3 linked regions of the Homo sapiens genome follow. Changing the gene in region 1 together with any one later gene gives a genetic interaction. Each region holds a gene or a part of one and is shown on either strand. Other genes may lie near its edges.

Evidence for each region.
Region 2: changes in PTPRJ (region 1) and RELA together harm fitness more than expected from each alone (negative genetic interaction), as found in Homo sapiens cells (one large-scale study listed by BioGRID).
Region 3: changes in PTPRJ (region 1) and GRK2 together harm fitness more than expected from each alone (negative genetic interaction), as found in Homo sapiens cells (one large-scale study listed by BioGRID).

Annotation. Positions count from the first base shown.
Region 1 is NC_000011.10:48,123,480-48,127,125, forward strand, and holds part of PTPRJ (receptor-type tyrosine-protein phosphatase eta isoform 1 precursor), read left to right. Parts: intron 1-133; coding exon 134-391; intron 392-1,488; coding exon 1,489-1,707; intron 1,708-3,646. UniProt on the Homo sapiens protein: Tyrosine phosphatase which dephosphorylates or contributes to the dephosphorylation of CTNND1, FLT3, PDGFRB, MET, KDR, LYN, SRC, MAPK1, MAPK3, EGFR, TJP1, OCLN, PIK3R1 and PIK3R2. Plays a role in cell adhesion, migration, proliferation and differentiation.
Region 2 is NC_000011.10:65,656,456-65,660,009, reverse strand, and holds part of RELA (transcription factor p65), read left to right. Parts: intron 1-212; coding exon 213-344; intron 345-1,187; coding exon 1,188-1,292; intron 1,293-1,510; coding exon 1,511-1,723; intron 1,724-3,554. UniProt on the Homo sapiens protein: NF-kappa-B is a pleiotropic transcription factor present in almost all cell types and is the endpoint of a series of signal transduction events that are initiated by a vast array of stimuli related to many biological processes such as inflammation, immunity, differentiation, cell growth, tumorigenesis and apoptosis.
Region 3 is NC_000011.10:67,279,949-67,283,594, forward strand, and holds part of GRK2 (beta-adrenergic receptor kinase 1), read left to right. Parts: intron 1-783; coding exon 784-835; intron 836-1,144; coding exon 1,145-1,236; intron 1,237-1,510; coding exon 1,511-1,610; intron 1,611-1,701; coding exon 1,702-1,780; intron 1,781-1,873; coding exon 1,874-2,004; intron 2,005-2,322; coding exon 2,323-2,417; intron 2,418-2,486; coding exon 2,487-2,594; intron 2,595-2,803; coding exon 2,804-2,870; intron 2,871-3,179; coding exon 3,180-3,280; intron 3,281-3,646. UniProt on the Homo sapiens protein: Specifically phosphorylates the agonist-occupied form of the beta-adrenergic and closely related receptors, probably inducing a desensitization of them. Key regulator of LPAR1 signaling.

The sequences.
Region 1 (3,646 bases):
GGACATCAGTGACCTCAGTCATTCTTTCTTTTTTTCTTTTAAAACCCGCTCCCAGCACTGAACCCCAGTCATTCTTAATGAAGGTGACTGCATATATCTTGTTCCATTAATGCATGTTGTATTTTTAAAATAGAGCCGATCCCAGTTTCTGATCTCCGTGTTGCCCTCACGGGTGTGAGGAAGGCTGCTCTCTCCTGGAGCAATGGCAATGGCACTGCCTCCTGCCGGGTTCTTCTTGAAAGCATTGGAAGCCATGAGGAGTTGACTCAAGACTCAAGACTTCAGGTCAATATCTCGGGCCTGAAGCCAGGGGTTCAATACAACATCAACCCGTATCTTCTACAATCAAATAAGACAAAGGGAGACCCCTTGGGCACAGAAGGTGGCTTGGGTGAGTTACAAAGGGTACCTTCCGTCTCCCTTACTGGTTCTTACTTTCAGTAACTAAATGTTCTAAAAAATAAATTGCTCTTCCATGTGTATGGAGATTTAGAATTTATAAAGGGCTTTTCCTCCACATTTTAGTTTGATCCCCCACCTGCATGAGGAAGGAAGGAAACGTGTTCTGATTTTACAGGGGAACACATTGGGGCTGAGAACAGCAATAGGAATTGAAACTTTTTAGAGTCTGGCACCCAGGAAAGTTAGAGGCCCCTTTAGCTTTCTATCTAACAGCTGTGTCAACCCAAGTTGGGCCTTCAGAGGAACTTATCACGTCTGCTGGTTGATGTTGGCGTTGTCATTTGCAGGTTTCATAGCATTTGCAGAGGATCCCCAGGATAACTCCATGAGGAGGACAGGCACTTAATCTGCATTTTATACTTAAGAAAACAGAGCTACAGAGTGGGTGTCAGGATCCTTGCTTGCGAGTGACAGAAACCAGACTTTGGATAGCTCAGACAGAAGGAACAATTTATTGGCTCATGTGGATTTTCCTGCTAGCGGGAGGCCTTAGAGAAAGAGATGAGGCAATTCTCATCCCTCCCTCTTGCTTCTTTCTGTTCATCAGCTTCATTCTCAGAGCAGCTCCCTCTGCACACTTAAGGAGCCCAGCTGCTCCTGTTTCACACCCTGCAGCTGCCCCACCAGCCAGCTGCCCCACCAACCAGGGTCTGGTCCAGGGAAACGTGTCTTGAGTGGGGTCTGATTAGCAAAGTCTGCTTCACAGAGCTGTCCCTGGAAATCCATGCTGGGACAGGAGAAGATAACAACCCAAAGAAGGGAGAATGACCTGAAATAAGCAGAGTTTGAAAGAGAAGCACCAGATATCTGTGGTGCTACTGGAATAACAGTACAAATGGAGATGGAGCTATCAGGCCTTTTTATGGGGCTGCCTCTCTCTCTGGAGGAGGAAGGGAGCAGATATTGATGGAGCACCAACTGTGGCCACTGTCTGATGGCCATCTGATGGGGTTGGGGCTCCGAAGGAAAATGGGGGATGTGTCCCTCTTGTGGTTGATGTCTTTTTGTCTCCTGTGCTTGAAACAGATGCCAGCAATACAGAGAGAAGCCGGGCAGGGAGCCCCACCGCCCCTGTGCATGATGAGTCCCTCGTGGGACCTGTGGACCCATCCTCCGGCCAGCAGTCCCGAGACACGGAAGTCCTGCTTGTCGGGTTAGAGCCTGGCACCCGATACAATGCCACCGTTTATTCCCAAGCAGCGAATGGCACAGAAGGACAGCCCCAGGCCATAGAGTTCAGGACAAGTAGGTTGAACTTTGTAAAATGGTGGCAGCCAGAGTTTCCTAGCACAATGTTCTGTCTCCTGTGATTCTGATTCTGAGTGATTTCTTGCATAACAGCTAGTTTTGATGTCAGAGGGAGCTTCCTGGAGGAGATTTTGGACAGAGCAGATCTGCTCAGTTTCTTCTTAACTCCATGGGCAGTGCACATCTCTCATTAAGTGAAATCAAATACATGGAGCAGCCCCTGTGTGCGGGCACCAGGCACTGCCTCACGCCATCTTTCACAGCTTTGCGTGGTGGCTGATGAGACAAACTGGCATCATACTTTCCTCTTAAAAACAAATAATCATTGCTTGTTTTTCCTTTGCTTTGAGTTAAGAAAGTTATGAAAGTGAGTTTCATTTTTTCACCCGCCTTGTAATTCATACCGATCTTTCTGTTGAAATGCTTGTTGACATGCACATTGCTGCTTCCTCGCTATAATTTATCAGCACTTTCACTCTGTAAGTTCACCAATATTTGGAGGCTTTGGTGAAAAGAGCGGGAGGTGAACACATTTGGGAATACTTAGAGGTAGTTACTGGCCAGGCTGTGTTACTTGTACAGGGCTAGAAGTTTTGGCAAGACATTGGTGAGAAGCCATTCTGTAAGGAATGACAGTTTTTCCTGGTATCCATGTTGAAGGAGGGTCCATTTGTGTCCTTCCTTCCCTTTGTACTTGTTTTGCTAATGTGGGAGTGGGTGGGGAGGATGCGGCCGTAGGACAGGCTGCCTGACCTCATGGGGCCTGCAGTGACCTGGCAGGAGTGGCAGGTGGGAGGCTCTCGGGTGAGGAGGGCTTGGATTCCAGAGGGTGGGTTAGTTGGAGGAGGAGGAAGGGGCTCCTATGTGGGTGCGGTTGGCAGTGGTGGGGTGTCCTGCACATGGTAAGCTTGCGTGAGAGAGTGAAAGGGGCTGAAATCTGGTCTGTGTGCCCTGCGTCAAGCCATGCACCCAGGGCTGGGTCCAGCCAGGGGAAGGTCCCTTTGACTGATTTGCTAAAAGGACTTGTAGATTTGTGTGGGCCTGGGGTCCCTGCTTTTTAAAGCAGTTTGAGCAAAAGCAAAGTAGTAGTGATTACATCTCAGGCTCTTGGTGGTGTGAATTCACACACATCCTGCTTTGGGTTGAACTGTCTTCATGCTTGGTAAATAATCATTATAGTAGCCTTTCCCTCTCTATAAGGGGCGAGTGTGTGTGTATAGATAAGTCTTAGTCAGTTTGGGCTGCTGTAACAAATGGCCATGCACTAGATGGCGTAAACAATGAACATTTATTTCTCAGGGTTCTGGAGGCTGGAAGTCTGAGACTGGGGTGCAGCATGCCTGGGCTCCGGGTGAAACACCCTCTTCCTCTTCCAGGTTGCAGACTCCCTGGGTCTTCACGTGGTTGAAGGGGTGAGGGCGTGGTTTCTCTCCAGCCTTTTTGATAAGGGCACTAATACCATTCAGGAGGGAGGTAATTCATGATCTAATTACCTCCCAAAAGCCCCGCCTCCTAAAAGCATCACATCAGGGGTTACAATTTCAACATAGGAATTTTATGGGGACAGAAACATTCAGTCTGTTGCAACACACACACACACACACACACACACACACACACACACACACACAGATAAACACACATTTCCACCCACCCCAGAGCACCCTGCACTTTTCAAGTGACTAGTTAGGTGGGGCAGGGTTAAGGAAACCATCAGAGGACATTGTTGAGGCACCCAAGACACGACAGAAAGCCACCTCTAGGGCTGAAGGGCTAGAGGAGGACAGGGTGTTTCTGGAGCCCAGTGAGAGCTGGGGCAGTGGTGGACACAGCTGTGTCAGGACAGGAGGCCCAGAGCAGGAGGTGATGGAGGAAGGCACTGACTCCTTTCTCCTGTGGCCCTTCAGGGGCCTGCCCATTGGCTCATAGTGGAACC
Region 2 (3,554 bases), about 18 Mb from region 1:
CAGTACTCTCCCACTTTACCACTGGGAAACTGAGTCCCAGGAGGGGACATGACATTCAGGCCACAGTGGAGTCAGTGCTGGGTTCTGCCTCCTCTAGGACTTGTGTTTCACACACGCACCAGCGGCCCTCCCAGCGCAGAGCTCCCTGCCCCCACTGATAGCACCTATATCCCCACTTCCCCTGCTCTCCTGATCGCCTGTTTTCTTGGCAGTTCCTATAGAAGAGCAGCGTGGGGACTACGACCTGAATGCTGTGCGGCTCTGCTTCCAGGTGACAGTGCGGGACCCATCAGGCAGGCCCCTCCGCCTGCCGCCTGTCCTTTCTCATCCCATCTTTGACAATCGTGAGTAGCGAGGGAGACGCAGGAAGGGGAGAGGGTGGGCCTGAATAGGAGGAAGGGGGTTGGGGTGAGTGTGGCCTGCAAGAGGCGCTCTGGCTTCATTCAATCATCTTGCGTATTTGTCTACTCTTCTCTGCCCAGCTCTTTGTTGGCTGGGGAGAGAGGGCAAAGAAGACCCAGAGCTGTCCTTGAGGTGTAGCTCTGGCCTGGCAGGAAGTCTAGCAGAGAGTCTGATGGGAGATGGGCATTTTCAGTATTGTGTGATGAGAAGGTGGTGTGCCCACAACTGCGATAATGACTCTAGGAAATGAACTCCCAGGAACAAGATAGTGTTCGAGAATGATGATTCAGTGATGGAAGCCCACAGATGAATTGGGCTGACTGATCAGCTGCAGTCTTTAGTTAAGTAACCAGCAGGATGAATGGAAATAAAACGAATCTGGAGCCCCAAGGATGGGAAACCAGGATAAACTGGGGGTCAGGAGGGAAGGGCTCATTGCCAAGGTGGGTATGGACTGGCCTTAAAGATTGCTTTGGTCAGGTGGAGAAAGAGTGTGATCAGATTGGCACCCACTGGACTATAAGCTCCGGGAGAGCAGAGAGGTTTGGGTTTTGTGTGTGGTCGTATTCTTGCTTAGATCAGTGTTGAGTGCACAGTAGGCAAATACTTGTTGAATCGGTTGGGGTGAGGAGCTAATAAGAAGGTCTGACTTTGGCTACAAAGGTGTAGGTGGCAAGCTCTGGGCAACCTTGACTCTGGGCTGGGCAGGGAAGTTGCATCTCCTGCAGGCCACCCTGGGGACCTCTCGTGGCTCAGGTCATCCTCCCTTGTTTTCACTGCCTCAGGTGCCCCCAACACTGCCGAGCTCAAGATCTGCCGAGTGAACCGAAACTCTGGCAGCTGCCTCGGTGGGGATGAGATCTTCCTACTGTGTGACAAGGTGCAGAAAGGTATACATCAGGAGGCAGGGGTGGGCTCTTGGGAGCAAGGGGTGAAGCTGAGCAGAGAAGTGGAGTGTCAGGTAACTGGCTTTGGATACTTCCTCCTGTGCCTCGGGGGCCTCAGGTGGGCCGAAGGGTGATGTATCAGAAGACAAGCATCAGAAGTTGAGGGGGAGACCATGGAGGGTTAGACACACTGACCCACACTGCCACCGCATCTCCTGCAGAGGACATTGAGGTGTATTTCACGGGACCAGGCTGGGAGGCCCGAGGCTCCTTTTCGCAAGCTGATGTGCACCGACAAGTGGCCATTGTGTTCCGGACCCCTCCCTACGCAGACCCCAGCCTGCAGGCTCCTGTGCGTGTCTCCATGCAGCTGCGGCGGCCTTCCGACCGGGAGCTCAGTGAGCCCATGGAATTCCAGTACCTGCCAGATACAGGTACACAGCTGGGGTGGCAGCATCAGGGCAGCTGGGCTCTGTGCCGTGAGAGAGAGGCCAAGACTGCATGTCTGGGGCTGTGGTTGAGGGCCAGAAGCTGGAGTCAGAGCTTGGGATCCAAGAAACTGGAATCCATTTCTTGCCTCATTTAATAATAATGATACCTCAGACATTGAGCTAGTACTACACATCTGCCCCTATTCCAGGCACTTCACTGGATTACCTGATTTTAATCTCATGACCCTTTTGAAGTAGGAGATAGTGTCCAACTTGCCTGGGTTCACGTGGCTAGTAAGTAGCAGAGTCTAGCAGAGTCAGCGTTGGAACCCAGGCCATCTGGCTTCAGGATCCTTTTGCCACACTGGTTGTCTTGTCACTACCATACAGCCCAGCCACATTTTGGTCGAGGTTTGAGTGTCCACTTGGTACCAGGGCCTGTGCCAGGTATTGTGAATACAAAAAATGAGTAAGACATGCTCCCTGCCCTTCAGAGTCTCAGTCACTTGAGGAAGACAAATGTGCAAAACAGATCCTTAAGTCACGGAATGACATGTGAAATGGAGGTGTGCGCAGAGAAGCACGGGGGCACAGTGGCCTCCGGGGAGCTGGAGACAGCTGCATGGAGAAGGTGGCATTGAAGCTGGAGAAAGACACAGAAGTGTGTTCTCCAGGCAGGTGGCCCAGCACCTGGAAGGGAAGGGGTGTTGGCAACTGCACGGCCTATTCAGGGCCACCTTCGTGGTTTGAGCTGATGTTGGGCAGTGAGCAGGCTCAGAGATTGGAGGGCCTGGTTAAGCTGAAGGCCTCTAAGCAGAGAGGTGACAGGAGCAGATTTGGAAGTTGACTCAGGAGGCCACGTGTAGAAGATCAGAGACAGACAGACTCAAAGCAGGGAGGCCATTCTGGAAATGTTGCTGTAGTCCAGGAAGAGAAGATGCGGCACAAACCTTACAGAAGGAATAGCAGAGCAAGATCACATCTCCACCACTGTCCTCAGTTACCCTTCAGCCCTGCAGCCGTTTTGCGTCTTACAGACCAAGCTCAGTCTCACCTCAGGACCTGTGTCTAGCTGTTGCCTCTGCTTGGAATGCCCAAGGTTTTAATGCAAGTGGCTCATGCCAGTCCTTCCCTGACCTCTAAATTAGCCCTTCCCTCTACATTTAGACTGTCCTGACCTCACTTCCAGTATTGTTACATCACCATATCGTCCCTGGACCACCGTCACTTGAGATTTTCTGGTTTGGTTTTGTTTGTTTGTTTGAGACAGAGTCTCACTCTTGTCGCCCAGGCTGGAGTGCAGTGGTGCAATCTCGGCTCACTGCAACCTCCACCTCCCGGGTTCAAGTGATTCTCCCTGCCTCAGCCTCCCGAGTAGCTGGGACTACAGGCGCCCGCCACCACATCCGGCTAATTTTTTGTATTTTTAGTAGAGACGGGGTTTTCACCATGTTGGCCAGGGTGGTCTCGATCTCTTGACCTCGTGATCCACCCGCCTCGACCTCCCAAAGTGCTGGGATTACAGGCGTGAGCCACCACGCCTGGCCGAGATTTTCTGGTTTGTATATATGATTGTGTCCCTCTCACTTTTTCACTAGGATGCCAACTTTTTGGGAGCAGACACCTTGTGTGCATACTCACGGCCACATCCCCAGTGTCTAGAAGGGAGGCTGGCACATAGTAGGTGCTTGATAAATATATGTCAAGTTACTGGCGGGGAGTGAGAGAAAAGAAGATAATCATTCCAAGGTTTCTAGCTTTGGTGACAGGGCAGATGGCGGATGGTCAGGGAATGCAGGAGAAAGAACCTAGTTTTTGAGGGATGATGAGGTTG
Region 3 (3,646 bases), about 19 Mb from region 1:
TCAGAAGGGGTATGGCTGGCGTGGAGGGCAGAAGCCAGCCTTCATTAGGCCCTGAGCAGGCAGGTGGCTGGCCCGTCAGCGGCCCCCTTGCAAGGACTCCTGAGAAGTCAGACAGGCTGCAGGTCATCTCCCACCCTGCCCTCCTCAGCACCAGGCAGCTCAAAGCCCATCCCAGGCAGTCTCCTAGCTCCAGGGAGCTAGGAGAGCTGTGCCACCTGTGCCTCTTTCTCTCCCGTGGGCTGTATAGCACCTTGCTGGCCCACCTGGACTGAGAAGCATCAGAGTCCTGGTAGGGGTAGGCCCAGTAGAGCGCATGGCCCCCGTGACCCTCACAGCCAGAGTTGGCGCGGTGGGTGGGAATTGTAGGTAGATTTCAGCCAGCTTTAGGGAGCAGCTGTTTTAGGGTCACTGCTGCCCAGCCATGGAGTGAGCTCTGTGTCACTGGGGGTATGCAAGCAGGGACAGGAGACGTACTTGTCAAGGATATGGTAGCAGGAAGTCTGGGTTAGACTGGAAGACCTCCTTTCTGTGCGGATCTGATTCCAGCAGGAAGCCACGGCCAGGTGGCCGAGGGCCATGCTGGGCACCCAAGCAGCCCTGACTGGTGCTGTGGGCGGGCAGGCCCTCAACATATCCTTCCTGGAAGAGGACATTAACGCTCGTGATGTTTCCACACCTACCCTCACGGGACCCCAGGGAGTGGCGGCTGGGTGGGGAGGCTCACGACAGCATCATCCTTCCCACATTCTGAGTGGCCCCTGAGCCCTGATTCTTCTTTTCCAGCGATAAGTTCACACGGTTTTGCCAGTGGAAGAATGTGGAGCTCAACATCCACGTGAGTGGGCTTGGGTGGGGCATGGAAAGCCACGCACCCTGCTGCTCCTCTCCCGGGAGCTGGGCCTGTGGCTTGGCTGGGAGGGGGAGGTCAGGGGATGTCTGTCCTTTAGCCCCCAGGGCCGTGGCTATGGGGGTCAGGGCCGGGATCCCAGCATGGGGAGGCCGGAGCAGGTAAATATGTGGCAAGGATGGCCAGGACATGGGTATGGGGACCCTGGCATGGGGCCAGCCCCTGCTGCCCAGGTGCCTCTGCCCCAGGGCTGGGCAGAGGCAGCCTGTGGTGACCGCAGCTGTCGCTGCCCCTCAGCTGACCATGAATGACTTCAGCGTGCATCGCATCATTGGGCGCGGGGGCTTTGGCGAGGTCTATGGGTGCCGGAAGGCTGACACAGGCAAGATGTGAGCACCCTGCTCGGCGCGGTGGGATACCTCGGGGAGCCGGGCTCCTGGGGGACCCTGACAGGCCGGGTTCCACACAGGGCCACCTGCTGCTCCATGCACTCCTGTCTTGCCGTGCTGTTACCCCCGCAGGCTCCTCTGGCCCCAGCCCTCCCTGTCTCTGATTTGTGTCACACGCTGGTCCTGGGTCTAGTCTTTCCCTCAAGCGCCCCCTGAGGCAGCCCTGGGCCCCTGCTCTGAGGGTGGGTGTTGACTGCCGACCTCTGCCCCGTAGGTACGCCATGAAGTGCCTGGACAAAAAGCGCATCAAGATGAAGCAGGGGGAGACCCTGGCCCTGAACGAGCGCATCATGCTCTCGCTCGTCAGCACTGGGGTGAGCTGGGTGGGCCGGGCTGCCGCTGAGGCTCTGGAACCCCGGGCGCCCCTGCTAACTGCCCGCCCCCTCCCCTCCTCTCCCCTCCTAGGACTGCCCATTCATTGTCTGCATGTCATACGCGTTCCACACGCCAGACAAGCTCAGCTTCATCCTGGACCTCATGAACGGTGAGTGCTGGCCGGGCCCTAGGGTGGGCCGGGCCCAGGCACGGGAGGCTGGGGCAAGACACTGAGTGCTGCCTGTGGGACTGCCTCCCTCAGGTGGGGACCTGCACTACCACCTCTCCCAGCACGGGGTCTTCTCAGAGGCTGACATGCGCTTCTATGCGGCCGAGATCATCCTGGGCCTGGAGCACATGCACAACCGCTTCGTGGTCTACCGGGACCTGAAGGTGAGCGCCCCTGCTGTCCCCAGGCTGGACCTCCGTGGCTGTCCTCTCCTTCCTCTCGACATCCCGGCCACCAGGCCCAGAGGAGTGGGGCTCCTGGGACATGGCCGCCCCGTATCTTCCCATCTCCGCCCCTGCCCTTCCCACCGAGCCACTCTCTGGGTCCAGGTTGTAGCTGGGGACAGGAGAGAGGACCCCCACCTTTGCCCTTTCTTTGGGTACCCATCGTCCTCTCCAGTGAAGCAGTGACCCAGCTGGCATCTTGCCTGGCTGGGCCCCATCCTGAGCTGCCCCAGGCAGCTCACTGGGCTTCCTTCACAGCCAGCCAACATCCTTCTGGACGAGCATGGCCACGTGCGGATCTCGGACCTGGGCCTGGCCTGTGACTTCTCCAAGAAGAAGCCCCATGCCAGCGTGTGAGTGCCCCCCACCCTCTCCCTCCCCACCCCTTGCCACTCCCGCTTATGGCCCCCTTGCTCCCACAGGGGCACCCACGGGTACATGGCTCCGGAGGTCCTGCAGAAGGGCGTGGCCTACGACAGCAGTGCCGACTGGTTCTCTCTGGGGTGCATGCTCTTCAAGTTGCTGCGGGGGTGAGTGGCCCATCCCAGGTGGGCAGGTGGGTTGGGGCTAAGAGAAGTTCCTCCCCAATCCAGGTGGGATGCCAAAGGAGGGGAGCCCATAGCTGCCTTGGTGGTAGGGTTGGCACCGTCCCTGACTTTGGCCACAGCTCATCCATGCTGCCTGCCTCCCTTTCCCCATTCCTGTCCTTTGACATTGGTTTTTGGCCTTTCTTGCCCAGGCACAGCCCCTTCCGGCAGCACAAGACCAAAGACAAGCATGAGATCGACCGCATGACGCTGACGATGGTGGGTGCAGGTCTCAGTGCAGGGCCGCAGGGGGCTGGGGGGAGCTCCTGTGGGTGCCAGGCCATGACTCTTGCTTCCCACCAGCCAGCAGAGATCTGGGCCACTGACCCCTACTCTGGCCTCTGAGACAGACCTCCTGCCCCATAGGCTCTCGCCCTCCCCGTGCTGTTGGAGCATGACTGCTGGGCGAGCTAGGATGCTGTGCCCCATCTGTCCCTCTGCGGGGGCCTGGACCCCTCTCTCCCCTGAGCTGGGATGGGGTCAAGGGCTCTTCCTAAGCCCCTGCTAATGTCCCACTCCTCTCTAAAGGCCGTGGAGCTGCCCGACTCCTTCTCCCCTGAACTACGCTCCCTGCTGGAGGGGTTGCTGCAGAGGGATGTCAACCGGAGATTGGGCTGCCTGGGCCGAGGGTGAGTACCCTGGCGCCTTGGGCATGCTGCTGGCTGTGCCCCCATGAGGACAAGGGCTGTGTCCCGTCACCTGGAACCCCCTCCAAGGTCCCAGCCTCCTTGGAGGAGCTCATAAGTTGGGGCATGGCCAGCCCTGTCCAATGTTCTCAGAGTGGAGGGGCTGCCCTGGGAGTTGGAGCTGCTGGAACCAGCTAGTAACTGGCTTCCAGAGGGGCCCTTGTCACAGATGATGATGATAGCAGCTTTTTATGTTTATCAAACATTTATTAAGCACTGGGCATAGGGTTGCAAAATTTACCAGTGTTAAAACCCACAACCCTACGATGTAGGAACTTCTGTTCTCCCATTTGAGAGATGAGGAAACAG